Regions from separate parts of the Homo sapiens genome. Here regions 2 and 3 are each linked to region 1. Evidence: fine-mapped expression QTL. A gene starts in region 1. Each other region holds a variant in brackets. All regions are shown on one strand. Distances are from middle to middle.

What was found. PIP is the estimated chance that this variant, and not a neighbour inherited with it, causes the effect. A credible set is the group of variants that fine-mapping cannot tell apart.
Region 2: its variant is the best candidate, but not a certain one, in a credible set for the expression of LRIG1 in monocytes after Pam3CSK4 (Quach 2016, PIP 0.69).
Region 3: its variant is the best candidate, but not a certain one, in a credible set for the expression of LRIG1 in monocytes after LPS (Quach 2016, PIP 0.64).

What each region holds. Positions count from the first base shown.
Region 1 is chr3:66,499,856-66,502,612 of GRCh38, reverse strand. LRIG1 (leucine rich repeats and immunoglobulin like domains 1) reads left to right here and starts at 1,591. Exons shown (of 19, transcript NM_015541.3): 1 at 1,591-2,423. The coding sequence starts at 2,206. RefSeq lists silencers at 1,222-1,881, 1,902-2,041, 2,082-2,161, 2,182-2,391 and enhancers at 1,494-1,994, 1,995-2,495.
Region 2 is chr3:66,473,453-66,476,209 of GRCh38, reverse strand. All of the region lies in intron 1 of LRIG1 (leucine rich repeats and immunoglobulin like domains 1), which reads left to right. Among named protein-coding and RNA genes, the nearest start is that of LRIG1, 26 kb to the left of the region's middle. The variant A/G (reference allele first, on the strand shown) is at 1,332.
Region 3 is chr3:66,468,252-66,471,008 of GRCh38, reverse strand. All of the region lies in intron 1 of LRIG1 (leucine rich repeats and immunoglobulin like domains 1), which reads left to right. Among named protein-coding and RNA genes, the nearest start is that of LRIG1, 31 kb to the left of the region's middle. The variant A/G (reference allele first, on the strand shown) is at 1,619.

The DNA of each region.
Region 1 (2,757 bases):
TTTTTGCCTTTTTTCCCTAAGGTTCAACTTCTCCTCTTTACCTCCCACCCCACCCCACTTCCATAAAACACAACTCAGATTTAATGTTCTGGAGCAAATGTTTTTCAACAGACTTGACCTGCTTAATCTTCCTGACAATGTGCGCAGTTATGTTAGTAATTTGCATACTCTTGGGAAGGGATATGAGACACTAGCAAACCAAAACGCCCAGAGGGCAGCTATATGTTACAGTGGTAATCTTTTTCTTTTTTTCTCAATGTGTGTATGTCTGCTTAATGTTACCACGTACTATCGTAACACACTACTACTATGGTCTGATCTTTAAGAGCAAAAGTTAGAAGCTTTGTTAACTATTATTTCTCCTTTAACTCTGTCTCTTACGAATACACAATGGCTTCTTGAAAATTATCTTAAAAAGACTCTGATTAAAACAAAAACCCAATGACAACAACAAAGCAACCCCTTTATCAAAGGCTGCAGCATTTCTAGAAGTACCCTTCAACTCACTAGCTGGGAAGGAGAGTGCACTTTTTTTTTTTTTTGAGACGGAGTTTCGCTCTGTCACCCAGGCTGGAATTCAGTGACAATTCAGTGACAAGTCTCTGCTCATTGCAGCCTCCGCCTCCGGGGTTCAAGCAGCTCTCCTGTCCCAGCCTCCCGTAGCTGGTATTACAGGTGTGCACCACCACACCTGGCTAATTTTTTTATTTTTCATTTTTAGTACAGACGGGGTTTTACCATGTTGGCCAGGCTGGTCTCGAATTCCTGACCTCAGGTGATCCGCCCGCCTTGGCCTGCCAAACTGCTGGGATTACAGGCGTGAGCCACCACTCCTGGCCGAGGGTGCACCTTTGAGACTAGGTTTCTGCAGCACACATTCATTTTAGTAATCAAGGACATATTGCTGGATTTAGGACGTGAAGAACAAGTCAGGAGCAGATGCTCCAGGCTGCTCGAGGAGGAAGGGGACCACGCCTAATGAAATAACCAAGGATGTCCCAGTCAGGAAGAAATGTGTTAAGTTTTAAACCTGTGTCTTCGCTTTTGGAAGGAACCTGGAAAACGGACGCGGGTTTGCTTCTAATCTGCAGTCCTGCTTGCAGCCTGAGGAGGACGTAAAAAGCCTTGGGGCCAGACAGCCCCAAAACGGGGGCGTTTTACCCTCTTAACTTTCTCTCCCCTTCTTGACGCAGAGGGCGTATCTTCACGCCTCCTTTCCCCAGCCCGCGTTCCCGTTCTCCAACAACAACCTGCGTGTCTCCTTTAAGAGGCGGGGGCCGTCCCTCCCTTTCTCCTCCCAGTCTCCCGCCCTTCACACCTTGGGTGGGAAAAGAGTGTGGGGGCGGGGTAGCCGGTGAAGCGGGAGGGGCGGGATCACAGCGAGCGCTCCAATGGCCCTCGAGGCTGGCCACGGTGGACTCCGGCAGCCAATGAGCAGCAGGCGGGGAGGCGTGGCGGGGCGCTGTTGCAAAGCATCCAACGTGGGCCAGCAGGCGGCCGCGGAGCGCGGAGCCTAGGGGGTGTGTGCGGGCGAGCGGCCGGGGGCGGGGCTTGGGGGACCGGCCGGGGCTGGGCCGCGGGGAGGCGAACAGCAAGCGGCTGATTGTTCGGCTGCGAGGTCGGCGGGACTCTTGCTGCGCGGAGGAGCCGTGCGGAACCCGAGGCTGCGCGCGCGCGCGCGCTCTCTGGCCGCGGCGTGGGGACAGCGAGGCGCACTGGGGCCTCCCAGCGCGGGGCCGGCCGCGCCGTCCAGCCCGAGGTCTACGGCTTTGCGCTCCGAGCCCAGAGGAAGATGCCTGCCGGCACCGAGCTCGGGCTGCGGGGCTGAACGCCTGTCTTCCAGGCGCAGCGGCAGCACTGCCCTCGGCCGGTGTCGGTAGCGGCACTCGGCGTGCCCCGGGCGGACGAAGAGCGCAGGCTGGGTACACCTTGCCCGAATCGGCGGAGTTCGCAGCTAGCGCGGGCGGGCCGGCCGGCCCGGATGGGCGCGGGGTTTGCGGCCCCCGCCGGGTGCTCCGGAGCGGCCCGGGCACCGGGGGCACGCTGAGTGCCGGAGCCGCGGCCGCAGAGAGAACTTGGGGCGGGGGCCATGCCCCGGTGCGGAGTCTAGAGCCGAGCGGAGCGCCCCGCGGGCCCGCCCGCGTCTGCGGCCGTTCGGGTCCTCACAGTCCCCGCGCCCGGAGTTCGCAGCGCGCTCCAGACAAGATGGCGCGGCCGGTCCGGGGAGGGCTCGGGGCCCCGCGCCGCTCGCCTTGCCTTCTCCTTCTCTGGCTGCTTTTGCTTCGGCTGGAGCCGGTGACCGCCGCGGCCGGCCCGCGGGCGCCCTGCGCGGCCGCCTGCACTTGCGCTGGGGACTCGCTGGACTGCGGTGGGCGCGGGCTGGCTGCGTTGCCCGGGGACCTGCCCTCCTGGACGCGGAGCCTGTGAGTGCCGCCCTTTCCGCCCTCTCTGCGCCCCGGGGCTCTGTCACTTGGGGATGGAGCGGCGGGGGTTCGTACTCAGGGAGGGGGTGCGGACTGGGTTGTGTGTGTGGAGTTGTGCGTGCTTGTGCGTGTTGGAAGACTGTCAGGTTGGAGTGGCGGAAGGGAGATTCTGCGTGGAGGTCCGGGGGAGTAGGCGTGCGAGAGAGCCTGGAGAAGAAGAGCGTGCCTCGTGGGGTCTGGAGACGAGCGAGCGTGGGTCGTAGAGATTTGGGGGTTAGCCAGCACGCGTCGTGCGGGCCATCTGGGGGTGAGTGAGTGGGAGTCTGGAGCTGAG
Region 2 (2,757 bases), 26 kb after region 1:
CTTTACTACAGGGTTTAATCTCTGCGCATTTCGAGTGAGGAAAACATGCTTGCCATGGGAAGGAAGAAAGCAGGTGCTCTGTCTCCCTTCCCCACCTCTTCATTGTCCTCAGTTGCAATGCCATTTGATATAGGTAGTTCTGAAATACATTGTACGCTTTATTCCCAGGCTGCAGGGATTATTGCTGACATAGACCATGGGTCCTGCAGCCAGCCCCCTGTGTATGGAAATGGAAGAAAAGAAATCAAGCTGTAAAGAATCTCTGTTTTGGGGCTTTGTAGTGGCGAATTACGTGAATAACTGAATTGAAAAGGTGCCTGGTTTATACCATCGTGAATACCCAGGCCTTAGATAAATATTGACACTAGTAGTGTGACGGGCAGGCCTACCATTTGTCTCATGCCCCTAGGAATAAACGATCTTTTCTCAGGTGCTTGTGACCTTATAAACCATCCTGACGAGTTTGTGCAGGTGCTTTCTGCACTAGTTCTTTGAGAGTGGATGGTTTTCTCCCTGTGCTTATGTGAGCTTAAACCTAACCAAATCTAAAGCCACTTTGGCTTATTGATCCTGGTTCACTTTGCCACAAGTAAACGCAGTTGTCAGCACAGTTTCGCAGAGTCATGTTTGTGTAGCCATGCGGACTAGACCTGGGATTGGAACAGCTTTTATTTACTTTGATAATATTTCAGGACTGAGTGTGGTGGGGAGTAAGGAGAAAGGAAAGCCAGTTTGGGGAGACTTAGCTGGAGTACAGGTTGCATCTGATAGCTGAGTGCCTGCCTTTTCCAGCAAACTGCTCTCACCCCCAACCACCACCTTTTGTTTGGTTCCCTATATCTCAGGGCATAGAACAAAACCCACTTAATTTTGTTAGTGTGCAGTATGCAGACGCAAGTCATTCTCCACCCTTCTACCTCCCTACCAATGATAGCATGTTTATTGGAGGGAAGTCATGTTGGAGTCACTTGATTTAGGACAGGCTAGGCAGAGACTTTGACAAACCTCGATTTGTCAAAGGAGTGATTGGTAGAACCTGGGAGATTGTGTGTTCGTTATATAGCAAGTGTTAGGCTAAGTCCTAGCTGTTTTCATAGGGCAGCTGCCTCAATGTAGCTGATCTTGTGGATGTCTCAATTTGGTATGACCAGTGGGCTTGGATTTTCTGTTTGGATGTGAAGATGCTCTGTGAATTGAATGGCTCTTGTCTCTCTCTAGTGCACAGAGAGGCTGTGGAGTACCTAGAAGTACACATGGTGTTTCTTAGATTTCTGCCTGTAACTGAAACTCCAAAAAGAGTTTACTGATAATTGACTTTTGACAAGGCTCTT[A/G]ACCACCTTTGCTGGTGATTGGCTTTAAAAGAAAGAACTCATATTCCACAGGTACCAGTATTCATTATTTGGTTAAGATACAGTTTAGCAAGTGGAATTTGCCGCTAGGGTCCACCCTGTAAGACACATCCTTTGTGAGTAAATGACCTGGACCTGCAAATGGGAGTGGGATGGTTGGGGAGGGGACAGGCGTGTGGTGGGGTGATGCACCCAGCCACATTGAATGTAGATGGGGCCGGGTGCTGTGGCTGACACCTGTAATCCCAGCACTTTGGGAGGCCGAGGCGGGCGGATCACCTGAGGTCAGGAGTTCAAGACCAGCCTGGCCAATGTGGTGAAACCCCGTTTCTACTAAAAATACAAGAATTAGCTGGGTGCAGTGGCGGGCGCCTGTAATCCCAGCTATTCAGGAGGCTGAGATAGGAGCATCACTTGAACCAGGGAGGCAGGGTTTGCAGTGAGCTGAGATCACACCATTGCACTCCAGCCTGTGTGGCAAGAGTGAAACTCCATTTCAAAAAAAAAAAAAAAGAACGTAGATGGACCTTGTGGAAGAGGTGAGGCATTGTTTTTAGGGACTTTGGCGAATGATTTAAAAAAAAGAAATAAAAGTGTGTTGTGGCCTAGTCATTTTCACAGCCAGTTTTCCATTTGACATAGTAAAATTTTAGTATGTTCAAGGATGGAGGTCGCATGCAGCATCTGCTATTTTCTGCTTGTAATTTCAGTGAAAAGGAAGTTCCATGTTTTAATAGCAGCATAGTCTGTGTACAATAATGCATGCTGAAATACTTTGTGGTTTTTGAATCTTGACTTCGTGTCTTCTCAGCCATTTCAACAACCAGAACCAGGGAAATCATCACTGCTCCACGCCTCTAAACAGGGAAAATGATGTGGTAGATGGTCTTTTAAATTTAGAGTGTTTCACGACGTCTTAGTACTGCAGAAAGAAAAACTTAGCCTTTTGGCTTTAGCTAAGCATTTCATGACACACGTAAACTTTAAGAAGCCCAGTGGAAAAAGTGAACAGGACGAGATCCCAAGTCGATAAGCTAGCTATTAAAGTCAGTGACTTCACTGTGGGCCAGACGGCTGACCTTTTAAAACTGTGTGTTTTCTTTAAAATACTTAGCTAGAGATAGTCGCGTGCCTCCCTGTAATACAGCGGATGTATTCTTGAAAAGTTGTGGGTAAATTCGCTTTTCTAATTTGGCTGATTTAATACCAGGGATCTGCTGTCTGTATTTGTATGATCTGCATTGTTTTGAGGCAGCTGAGAAAGAGAGGATAAACCTAGAAAATAATATTGGAAGGAACCTTGTACTTAATCCATTTGTAACGCCGAGCATTGTGGCAAATGCAAGTAAGCATGGATTTTTATATGAGCTTTATAGATTTTGGATGCTTGGGCTTTGCACAGGCACCA
Region 3 (2,757 bases), 32 kb after region 1:
TAAATTAATTAATCTTTAGGGGTTAATGATGCACATACCATATTAACAAGAGACTATTATGGGAAATTTGTGGGCTTTCCTCAGTACTAAACTGCACTAAAGATGAGACTGCTTAAAGTAAAACAAAACAAAACCCATTATAGCTAATTATTTTGTTTCTTTTTGGCCAAACTAAGATTTTTGGTAGGAAAGATCCTAGAATCTCCCATTTTAAGGGGTAGTATAGAAAGCAAATGCTAACTGCCTTCAGTGATGGTGAGAAAACAAATTGGGCCTCTTGATTATCTAGTTCAGAACTTTTAAGTAAATGAACAAGGCGATACTCTGTTCTTATGGAAATCAACTTTAATGGCCCCATAGATTAATGTTCGTGAGGGACCTGGCACTGGGGTTTGCTAAGGTTTATATAACCCTTGACTTAACCGCCTGGTGGGTTGTGGGTCTGGCAGCATGGGGCTATTCTTCTCAACTTTGCTGTAAAACCATTTGTGTCTTGCCCTTTCCTTTCTAGGAGGTCCTGACTTCTTGGCCTTTTTGTTTGCTTATTTTACTCCATGCCCTCCATTCCTTATTTTACTTTTCTGGCCTCGTTTCCCAGGACTCCTCTTCAAAAAAACATGCTCTTCTTCTAGGCTTAGCTGAAATCTTGCATTTTCAATAAACGTTTCTCATTACAGCTGATCTTTCCTGCTCTGGACGCCATCTGGCCTTCATTCATGTTATCCATGCTAGGGATGACAAACTCAGATCTCGGGCTGGGAAGATACTGCCGGTGAATAAAGAGGGCATGGGTGAGACAATAAGGAGTGGTGAGGTCTGTGGTCATTGGAATGCTTGGTAAATGCATGTAGTTGATTGTTTCTGTTAGGAATGCTGGCCCTCCGATTATTTTCAAGAAAAGCTGAAACTTTAGTTTTTGGTGAAAACTTTAGGTTTCTACCAACACTGTTCAGTCAGAAACAAGCAAGTTTCCCTGCAGCCCAGCTTTGTACCCACAAACTACCAATTTGTAGCTACTGATCTACCATTACAGAATGCTTGCAAGTGTCAGAGCCTTTGGCTGTGTTATTTGGTCAGTATTCTTTTTTTTTTTTTTTTTTTGGTAGGGACAGGGTCTCACTATGTTGCCCAGGCTGGTCTCAAATTCCAGGCCTAAAGTGATTCCCCGACTTTAGCCTCCGAAAGTGCTGAGATTTATAGGCGTGAACCACCACACCCGGCCAGGAGTCTTAACTTGACCAGTGGGTTGTAAACCACTTCAAGTCACAGACTAGATCTTATCCTAATTTGTTATCAGTTTATCACAGTGCAGTATACCTTGTAGACAATAAATATTTGTCAAATTTGACATTTGTTGGGTGCTAGAGGGAAAAGATGTAGACTTGTACTCAAATTAGCTACAGACCAGGATGACATGTGTGAACTAGTAAGGCCGAGAAGCACATGTAAGACCTTATGGGATCACAGAGGTAGGCATGAGTTTCTTCTCTCAGTTAACGTCACGGGCGTTAGACTTCAGAGGCCCACACTGATTATTATAGCTGATTTTTAAGGAGTAAAAATAGGCAATGAGTCTGGGTCCATATATAGCTGTATGTATATAGTATCTCCTATTTTG[A/G]GTCACTGTAGGTTTCCCTTATTTGCATAGATAATGGTCTATGTAAAATTTTCAGAAATGGAAATAACTGGTGACTCATTACTGACTTTGTGAGATACAACTGCCCAAAAGCTTACAAAATGAGCTATTTGTATCATGTTGAGATCTGAGTGATTTTTTTCATTTGATTATTTGCAGAATATGTTCTTTTGCCATAGGGAATATGTGGCTGCTTAGCTTACTGAAGAGAGGTAGCAGCAAGTACAGAACCTTCTCCTGAGTGGAGATCCTTGGATAGGATACTAGAGGAATGATTCCAGTTCAAGATACAATTTTGTCATCTTAATATAAGCCTTTAATGTGCATTATCCGCTTGTTCAGTTGTGGTTTTTGGTTAACAAGGGGAAGCATCACAATACAAAAAAAGGTAAGAACATCTAATATTCTGGGATTTGAACGAAGTCTTATTCTCTTTTATAAAACCTTACAACATGGGAACATAATGTGGTGATTTCATTGGAGCTTGATGTGTACTATGTAATTCCTCAGAAAGTAAAAATGCAGCAGAAACAGTCTTAAAAGCTTAAAGGATTAAATAACTTAAACATTGTTGCATGTTCTTCCTTATTTGCACCCGCTGAAATTTTGAAAGGACGAATCACCTTTTTCCACCTTTTTCTGGTGAGTCCCAAGCAGGCAATTTTTTAACGAGTGGCTGACAGTGCACGTTCTGAGGTTGAGAAAGAGATGAATCGCCAGAGCCCACGGCTCCCAGGCCAGAGCTGGGTGCCCACTGGTGCTCAGAAGTTGGGTTGTTGGATTGCCTCACACTTACTTTCCAGCTGTATTAATGCAGTTTAGCAAACATCTGAAAGCTTAAAATATGCAAAATACTGTGGCGCTCAGGAGTCCAGACAGAATTGAGTAATGGGAAATAGGCTAGCCTGGAAACCAAACCAAGTATGAAAACCTCATTCTTCAGGGAATGCTTGTCACGGATTTAGGACCAATTCCTTCCACTTTGAATTATTCTGTTAATGTTGAAAAATGGAGCCATGGGTTGCGCTCCTCTTCACAGTGAGAGATTTTGTCTGTGTTCGTCAGTGGTCTGTGAGCAATGCTTGCTTTTGGGGATGAAGTGATAATTCTGTTGTCTAACG